Linked DNA regions of Homo sapiens: region 2 is linked to region 1. Evidence: fine-mapped expression QTL. A gene starts in region 1. The other region holds a variant in brackets. All regions are shown on one strand. Distances are from middle to middle. Region 1 holds the start of SLC9B2 (solute carrier family 9 member B2). Region 2 overlaps LOC102723704 (a long non-coding RNA gene).

The links. PIP is the estimated chance that this variant, and not a neighbour inherited with it, causes the effect. A credible set is the group of variants that fine-mapping cannot tell apart.
Region 2: its variant is the best candidate, but not a certain one, in a credible set for the expression of SLC9B2 in pancreas (GTEx, PIP 0.53).

What each region holds. Positions count from the first base shown.
Region 1 is chr4:103,074,469-103,078,874 of GRCh38, forward strand. SLC9B2 (solute carrier family 9 member B2) reads right to left here and starts at 2,293. Exons shown (of 12, transcript NM_178833.7): 1 at 1,716-2,293. It overlaps BDH2 (3-hydroxybutyrate dehydrogenase 2), which reads right to left. Exons shown (of 10, transcript NM_020139.4): 10 at 3,124-4,406. RefSeq lists a silencer at 1,953-2,062 and an enhancer at 2,173-2,292.
Region 2 is chr4:102,788,548-102,792,953 of GRCh38, forward strand. The region is part of intron 4 of LOC102723704 (a long non-coding RNA gene); the gene reads left to right. Among named protein-coding and RNA genes, the nearest start is that of MANBA, 30 kb to the left of the region's middle. The variant ATTAATT/A (reference allele first, on the strand shown) is at 2,102.

The DNA of each region.
Region 1 (4,406 bases):
TTTCTATCTTTCTAGCTTCTTGTTACAGTGCAAAATCATCATAGACAATGAATGATCAGAACACTGCCTTTGTATTGAAATTTCTCAAAAATGTCCAGAAAATAACATTTTATAAAGTTAAAAATTAGTGCCAAGGTTTTCACTGCCATTCTTTTAGTCAACAGAAATTATTTGGATTGTAAGATTATGTATTTCCCCTCCTCTACCCTGAAGTTAAATTGTAATATTTGAATACTGAATGAAGAAAAGTTGGACTTATAAACGTTTGGTTGTTTTCCAAATTTCCACTCATGAAACAAAACAACAACAATAAAATATCACTACTATTGCTGCCTGGAGTTTCATTTCTGCTTTTTCTACTTGAAGAAATTCAAAATCTAACTCAAATGTCACCTTCTCAGTATTTCCTAACTCCAACATTGACAAACTGTCTCCCTCGTTTTCCTCTCTGATGATTCATTCATTCATTCAACAAACAAGAGCTATTAAGCTCTTGTTACGTCCCAGTCCTTGAGCTGAGGATTCAGAAGTGAACGGTCTTAAATAGTTCCTATATTCAGATCTTGTAATCTAGTTACAGGATGATAAAGGATGATAAATGATTCCTAAGCAATCACAATGAAATATGGTTAAGTTTCAACTTTAGACACATAACAACCCCATCCCTTAACAAGTTTCATTTCCTTTTTTTTCTTTTCTGAGATGGAGTCTTGCTCTGTCACCTAGGCTGGAGTGCAGTGGCACAATCTTGGCTCACTGCAACCTGTGCCTCCTGGGTTCAAGCGATTCTTCAGCCTCAGCCTCCGGAATAGCTGGAATTACGGGCGTGCACCACCATGCCCAGCTAATTTTTATATTTTTAGTAGAGATGGGGTTTTACCATGTTGGCTAGGCTGGTCTCGAACTCCTGACCTCAGGTGATATGCCCACCTCGGCCTCACAAAGCCTTAACAAGTTTCTCTGGTGTGATAGGCACAAGAGTAACAAAGATGACTAAGATGCAGTCTGCCCTTTAAGGGATGGTCAGAGACTGATATGTGTTTACCAAAATCGTTTACTCTTCTGCCTGGGTCCATAGTACATTTCCAGTCTCCCTTGCAGGTCAGTGTGGCATGTGACTGAAGTCTGGTCAATGGCATGTGGACATAAATAGTATGTGATTTCCAGTCCTCACCCATAAGAAACAATCCTCATGCAATCCTCTAGTAGCTTTTCTTTTTCTGTCCGTTGCCTGGAAACTAAGGACTCCAAGGTCTTAGGGGATAGCAAAGCCATAATATAAAAGGAGTTTGGGTTCCTGAATAATTGAGTAGAAGGCCAACAGCTGAACACGTGAATGGACTTGACATGAACGAGAAATAAGCCTGAACTATGTTTAGTTACTGAGATGTTTTACTTTATCTCTTACAGCAGCTACTGCTGTCTTAAGGTTATATTCTTCAGTCAATAGCATACGATGATTCTTAGCACCTCGAGGATGCTAACCCAGTCCACAAAGGCAACACCCCCTCTGGTTAATCTGAGAACTAAAATAAAAGCAAGCAAGAAAACCCACGCCAACACCTTACAACAGTAAACAGACACGCGCCCGTCACCGGGTGTACAAACAGAAAAGGCTGGGCCCCTCGCTCGCGTCTCCGGTCCAGCAGGCCTACAGGGTACCCGCCGCTGGCGCTGGGTTTATTTTTACCCTTAGTGTCTCTGGGGCCTCTCACCTGGCAGTCTCCGGCGAAGTCGACCAGGCTCCGTCTGAACGATTAGGAAAGGGGCTGTGGGGGAGGCGGCGGAGCCCGGTCTAGCCACCGCGCTCTGGGGTTCCCGATTCGCGCATCTTCCCAGGCTGAGCCGGGAGGCTGCGTTGACTGCAGATAAACGGTCTCAGGGCGCGGCACCGCGTGTAGTCGGCCCCGCCTTTCGCACGAACCCGCTGGGCGACACCGCGCAGGGAGGTCCGACCCGTCGGCGCCGGTACAGGCTCCGGAGTAAGCATGGGTTGGTCCGGGGCCCGCAGCGGCAGCCCCGTGTGCCCTCCGCCGGGTTTCAGGTCCGGCGGCGCGGGTGCAGAGCCGCGTGCGATGCCTGGTGCGCGTGGCTTCCCCCGGAAAGGTGGCGCCAGGCCGACCATGGGCCCACGTCCCGGGGCCTCGGAGCGGCACCGCGCGGTCTTTCAGCTGCTTATCCTCCCTGGGCGGGTCCGCAGGCTTCTGGGGCCAGGACCAGCGAGCTCCCGGGAAAGCTTCCCGGAAAGCTTACCCAGAGAGCGCGGACCCAGGCGCCGAGTCTTCCCGGAGATGACGAGACACCGCGAGAGGAGCACAGCGCAGGCTCCTCGGGACTCCGCGGCGCAGGCCGGGCAGCCCGTTACTTGTTTTATCGTTCCCGAAACCAACCTCTAAGTTGTCTATCAGTCCTCCACCTTTTAGCTGTACCTCTTAGAAGTGTCTTCTCAGCTGCGGTGGGAAGATAGGATTCTTTCTTAAGGTGACCAATTAAATGGCCGGATAAAAGACTTGTTCTGCCCCCCTTTATCGCTTAACACCTGCCCTTCTTGTTGTATTTTAGATTTTTAACCCTTCTATCAGCAGTGTGATTCTATTTCATTTAATTCTCATTTCATGTTTGTGTCTTCCTTTTCTCTGTATTTCCTCTTGTGTGTGTTAAGACGCGCGCACCCCTTACCTGTTTTTCACTCCTGTAAGCAAGTGCCAATCTTAATCACCGCTTTTCAAGCAAGGGAGATTATCCTCAAATTTCTCCACCAGTCAGAAACCATTCATTCTTGTCTCTCAGGTCCTCTTTTGTGATGAACCTATTGGATAGGTTCCATCCAATACCCTTCTTCAGATCATCTGAAATGATTATTTTCCTAAACGGAACTCTTCCTCTCCTAAAGCTTGTAAAAATTTCTAGTGACATTCAGCTTCCTCTTACCACAGGAATGACATATATTTTTCCTTTTAGTCATATGTACTTCATTAATATATCACCTGATTTGATTAACATGACTTTGGAGAACATTGAATTTTTTGGCTAGATTTTACTTCGTTTTTATTGCTGATAGTGTTTATAAAAATGTTTTATAGTTTATGGTCGGCTGTGAGAAAGACTAACTCAGATCATTTGTTAATGTTGGAGCCCATTTTGTAGAATTCGTTGTGCATTTATTTAAAATTTATTTGTTCATAGCTATACATATATTATACATGTATACCTGCTCACAGCATAAAGTATTTCATGACATACTTGTAAGAGTCAGTGTTCTATGAATTCACTAGAGAAGTTACAGCATTTTGATTATGATACACGAAAAGAAACCCAAGTCATTTAGCTTAACTCCTTAATTTCATAAACCAGAAAACTAAAATCCAAGATAGATTGGGTGACTTGGTCTAGATCACAAACCAAAGTTAGCCATAATTCGGTAGTGTAGTGCCCGGTCCAAAACCTCATAGATAATCTTATAATCAATGGACTCTTTCTGAATGCTAGTCAAAATGTCCTTTTGTGTGAATTTTAATGTACCGTCATCAACTGCATGATATTCTTCCCCATACACAAAGTGTTATCTTTTTGTTGTCCATTTCAGAATTTTCCATGTTAATATTAAAGTTCTAGGAAAAAAGGCTAAGAATCACTGCACATTTATTGAGTATCTCAGTGTGCATCATACCATTTGGTCATTTGAGGTTGCAACAAGTAAAAAACAAACATAAAACCCTTAAATTAAAATAAAAACAAAAAACTTTGCCCTGACAATGTTACAGAATTAACATCCATAAATTTACTTTTCTTGAAAAATTTATTTTCTTTAATTTCGTTTGTTTCCTGTTACATAATTTATATTTAAATTTACATTTATTTATCCAGAAACTATGTCCAAATTTTATGTCCTCTTTTCTGTTATCCTGGAGTTTGGTGAAGAAATCTGTACTTAATTTAGAAAAGAAATCCCTCTAACTGACAATATTGTTAGCTAACTATATATTTCTTAGGCCCATGTCAAATATCATTGCTTATTTTAATAAAGATTGTTTAGTTAGACTAAGAAAATAGTAAATAATAAGGGATGGCATCCGTTAAGTATAAACACTGGATTATTTTTCATAACATAACAGGTCAACAATATCGTTTTGAGGCTGAACTCCTTTACTCCTTTTACTGTAAGCTATTGAAGCCAAACTCCTTCCTACCTTTGTTCATTTATGATGGTGTAAAATTTTAAAATTAGGATCTACATACAGAACAATGCAGAATTATATAAAAATATTTGAATATTGAAAAATGAAGTGGAAATTATTATTATTATTTAGGTACAGGGTCTTGCTCTGTCACCCTGGAGTGCAGTGGCATGATTACAGCTCACTGCAGCCTCAAACTCTTGGGCTCAAGTAATCCTCCTGCCTTAG
Region 2 (4,406 bases), 290 kb before region 1:
AATATAAGCATTTAAATAAGTACACAAGTTTGTTATCAGAATTAAGAGTTAATATTATGTAAAGAATTGGCCGGGTGCAGTGGCTCCTGCCTGTAATCCCAGCACTTTGGGAGGCCGAGGGGGGCGGGTCACCTGAGGTCAGGAGTTTGAGACCAGCCTGGCTAACATGGTGAAACCCCATTTCTACTAAAAATACAAAAAATTAGCCAGGCGTGGTGGCAAGCACCTGTAATCCCAGCTACTTGGGAGGCTGAGGCAGGAGAATCGCTTGAACCTGGGAGGCAGAGGTTGCAGTGAGCCGAGATCATACCATTGCACTCCAGCCTGGGCAACAGCAGCGAAACTCCGTCTCAAAAAATAAATAAAATATCTGTGTGTGTGTGTGTGTGTGTGCGCGCGCACGTGCGTGTCTGAAGAATTTAGAAAAGTGCTTGACACTTAAAAGTATTACATAAATGTTGGTTATTACTATCTTTTGTCACTGATATTTTAAGGTGAAATTCACATATTAACTATTGTAAAATGCACAATTCAGTGTAATTTCATGTGTTCACAATGTTGTATAGCCATAACTTCTAGTTCCAAGACATTTTCACCACCCACAAGAGACTACATACCCATCAAGCAGTCATTCCCCATTTCCCTATCTTCCTAGTAGCTGAATCTGCTTTCTGTCTCTATAGAACTATTCTGGATATTCATATAAATGAAATTATACAATATGTGACCTTTTATGTTTTGCTCCTTTCTTTTAGCAAAATGTTTTTAAGGCCCATCCACATTATAGCATGCATCAATACTACAATCTTTCATGTGGCTGAATAATATACCATCGTACGGAAATACCACAATTTGTTTCATTGTTTCCATCTTTTGGCTATTGTGAATAGTGAGTGCTGCTATGAACATTCATTTACAAGTATTTGTTTGAATACCTGTTTTCAGTTGTTTTGGGTACGTAACCAGGAATGAAATTGCTGAGTCATACAATAATTCTATGTTCAACTTTTTGGGGAACTGCCAAACTGCTTTCCACAGAAGCTGCACCATCTTACATTCCCACCAGCATTGTACCAGGTTTCCAGTTTCACAAAATCCTCACCAGCACATTTTCTATTTTAAAATTTTACAGCTATTCTATGGGGTAAAAAGTGATACATCATTGTGGTTTGGACTTGCATTTCTCTAATAACTAGTATGTTGAACATCTTTTCATTTACTTACTGGCCATCTGTTTATCTTATTTGGGAAAATGTTTAAATCTTTTGCCTGTTTTTAAATAGGGTCATCTTCTTGTTGAGTTTTAAAAATTCTTTATTCTGAATACTAGAGCCTAATCATAGATGATTTGAAAATTTGTGTCCATTCTGTAGGTTATCCTTTCATTTTTATAATGTCTTTTGACACACGTTTATAATCTTAATGAAGTCCAATTTATCTTTTTCCTTTGGTTGTTTGTGCTTTTGGTGTCATCTCTAAGTATTGCCAAATCTAAGAACACAAAGATACACTCTCATTTTCTTCTAAGAGTTTTATGGTTTTAGTAGCTCTTACATTTGTGACTTTGATCCATTTTAATTTTTGCATAAGATGTGAGGTAGGGGTCCAAATTCATTCTTTTGCATGTAGATATCTGGTTGTCTCTACACCATATTGTTAAAGAGACTATTGTTTCCCATTGAATGGTCTTGTCATCTTTGTCAAACATCAACTGACCGTAAATGTATGACAATTTCTGGCCTCTCAATTCTATTCCATGAGTCTATGTGTTCCTGTGTATGCTATTTTGATTACTGTAGCTTTGTATTAACTTTTGAAATAGGGAAGTATGAGTTCCTTACTTTCATTCTTTTTAAAGATTGTTTAGCTCCTTGCAGTCCTTTGCAATTCCGTATGAATTTTTACACTTTATCATTTCTGCAAAACAGTCATTGGGATTTTGATAGGGGTTGCATTGAATGTGTAGATTGCTTTGAGAATCACTGTCATTTCAGCATATTAAATCTTCAAATCCATGAACACAGGATGTCTTTTCATTTATTCAGGACTTCTCTTTCAGAAGTTTGATAGTTTTCAGTGTACATGTTTTTGCATTTCCCTT[ATTAATT/A]TTTTCTTTTTTTGAAATAGAGTCTCACTCTGTCACCCAGGCTGGAGTGCAGTGGCATGATGTCGGCTGACTGCAACCTCTGCCTCCCAGGTTTAAGCAATTCTCCTGGCTCAGCCTCCCGAGTAGCTGGGACTACAGGTGCACGTCACCACACCCAGCTATTTTATTTTTTTTGTATTTTTAGTGGAGATGGGGTTTCACCAAGTTGGCCAGGCTGGTCTCAAACTGCTGACCTCGTGATCTGCACGCCTCGACCTCCGAAAGTGCTGGGATTATAGGTGTGAGCCACTGCACTGGGCCCCTATTCTTTTTGATGCTATTGTATATGGAACTTTCTTAACATCATTTATGGATTGCTTAGAATTAATAATTATTTACAGAAATACAACTGATTTCTCTGTGCCAATCTTGTATCCTGCAAATTTGCCTAATTCTATGAGCGCTAAGTGGTTTTTATGATTTAGGATTTTCCATATACAAGATGTCACTTATTTAGTCTTCCTTTACAATTTGACTAATATTTTTAAAATATTGATATTTAATGTTTTGATTCTTGCAAATTGGTTGGCAACTCATGGTGCTACATTACCTTGTACTTTTTCTTGCTGGTTTTAAAATGTGAGCTATTATGCAATTCCTACAGTGTTTGCTTCTGCCAGTAGCTGGTTGTTTTACTAATTTGGAATCACTCTAAAAATTAAATCCTCTGCTTGAATTTCCTGGGACCACCTAAGCCTGCAAATCTTCACAAAGCCCAAACTGTTATTACAAATTCTCGCAATATTCTCCTGTCACAGAGCACCAAGTTTCAAGATAGGTAGAGTCCTAGTTGTACTAGGAATGGGTTTCTCGTATTTGACACCACTTTTGGGTGCATCCTGGGCTTTGCCAGAGTCATGAAAATTAAAGGTCAGCTGGGCATGATGGTTCACGCCTGTAACCCCAGCACTTTGGGAGGCCGTGGCGAATGGTCTTGAGCCCAGGAGTTCAAGAACAGTCTGGGCAACATGGCGAGTAGCCCCAACTACTCAGGAGGCTGAGGTGGGAGGATTGCTTGAGTCCAGGAGGTCGAGGGGTGTATCACTGCACTCCAGCCTGGGTGATACAGCAAGACCCTGTCTTGTAGAAAAAATGAAAAAAGTTCACTTGGGGTAGGTACTTCAAGTGTTTTCAAAATGCAATGCAAGCTGGTTCTGGGTATGTTCTGTTTTCTTCTGGGTTCTTGGTTTCAGTTTGGTTTTGGTGAGAGTACTCCTTCCTTTCTTGATAGAACATTGACACATCGAAAAAAAAAAAAAAAGTTTTCCCCCAGCAAGTGGTTGCTTTTTCAAAGGATTTATCAGGGTAATCATCCAGGCTGACAGAATCTGAACTGCATTATTTTACTTACAATAAAGAAGGTCTGATTAACAAATTTTTAATAGTATATTAGTTTTCTTTGTTCTTTTGGAGTTAGAAATGAAGCAAGCAAAAGATTAAACATTTTCCCTAAGAAGATATACAAATGACGAGTAAGTACATGTACCTTTGACAGACTACCATTTGGCCCAGTCATTTGTGTTAAATATTTGATCACCTAAAATGTTGCAAGTAGTCATCTCGTCATTGATAAATAAGAGAAAAAAAATCTGTCCTCATAGAACTGGGGTGGCGCTGAGGGTGAGACAATTATTACCTATAAGATAGATAATACTGAATATGCCATGATGTACTCTATAGAGGTGATGCTGTGTTGGTGTATTTATAGAATAGTCAAGAAAAACCACTCTGATAAGGTATTTGAATAGAGACCTAGTTAGGGAAAAGGAAGCTGTATGGTATGTGGGGTAAGATCATCCTAGGCAAAGGTAAGAACAAGAGTAAACATCTTCACACATCTTTGCAAGTCTCAGCAGTCCCATGTGACTGAGCTGAGAGAGTTGGAATGGTGGTGAGACAAGCAAGGAATTGGGGATTAAGCTGAGGCAAAGGTAGGGAAGAAAGTTATCTACAGCCTTGTAGATTACTTTTAATACCTTGTGTTTTTACTCCGAATGAGATGGGAAACCATTAGGTTTGGAGGAAAGCCATGCCATCTGATAAGGTTTAAAGGGGTTGTGTGTGGGACAGACAGATTGCTGCAACGTGGGGAGATCACTCAGGAGGCTACTCCAATAATCCAAATAAGAAATGATATAGCTTTAGATCATAGTGCTAACAGTCAACATGATAAATGGGCAGATTCTAAAGGCTGCTGTTAAGTCTGATTGAAGGTGGAGTGTGAAAAGTCAAAGATGGTGCCTAGGTTTTAGGCCATTGC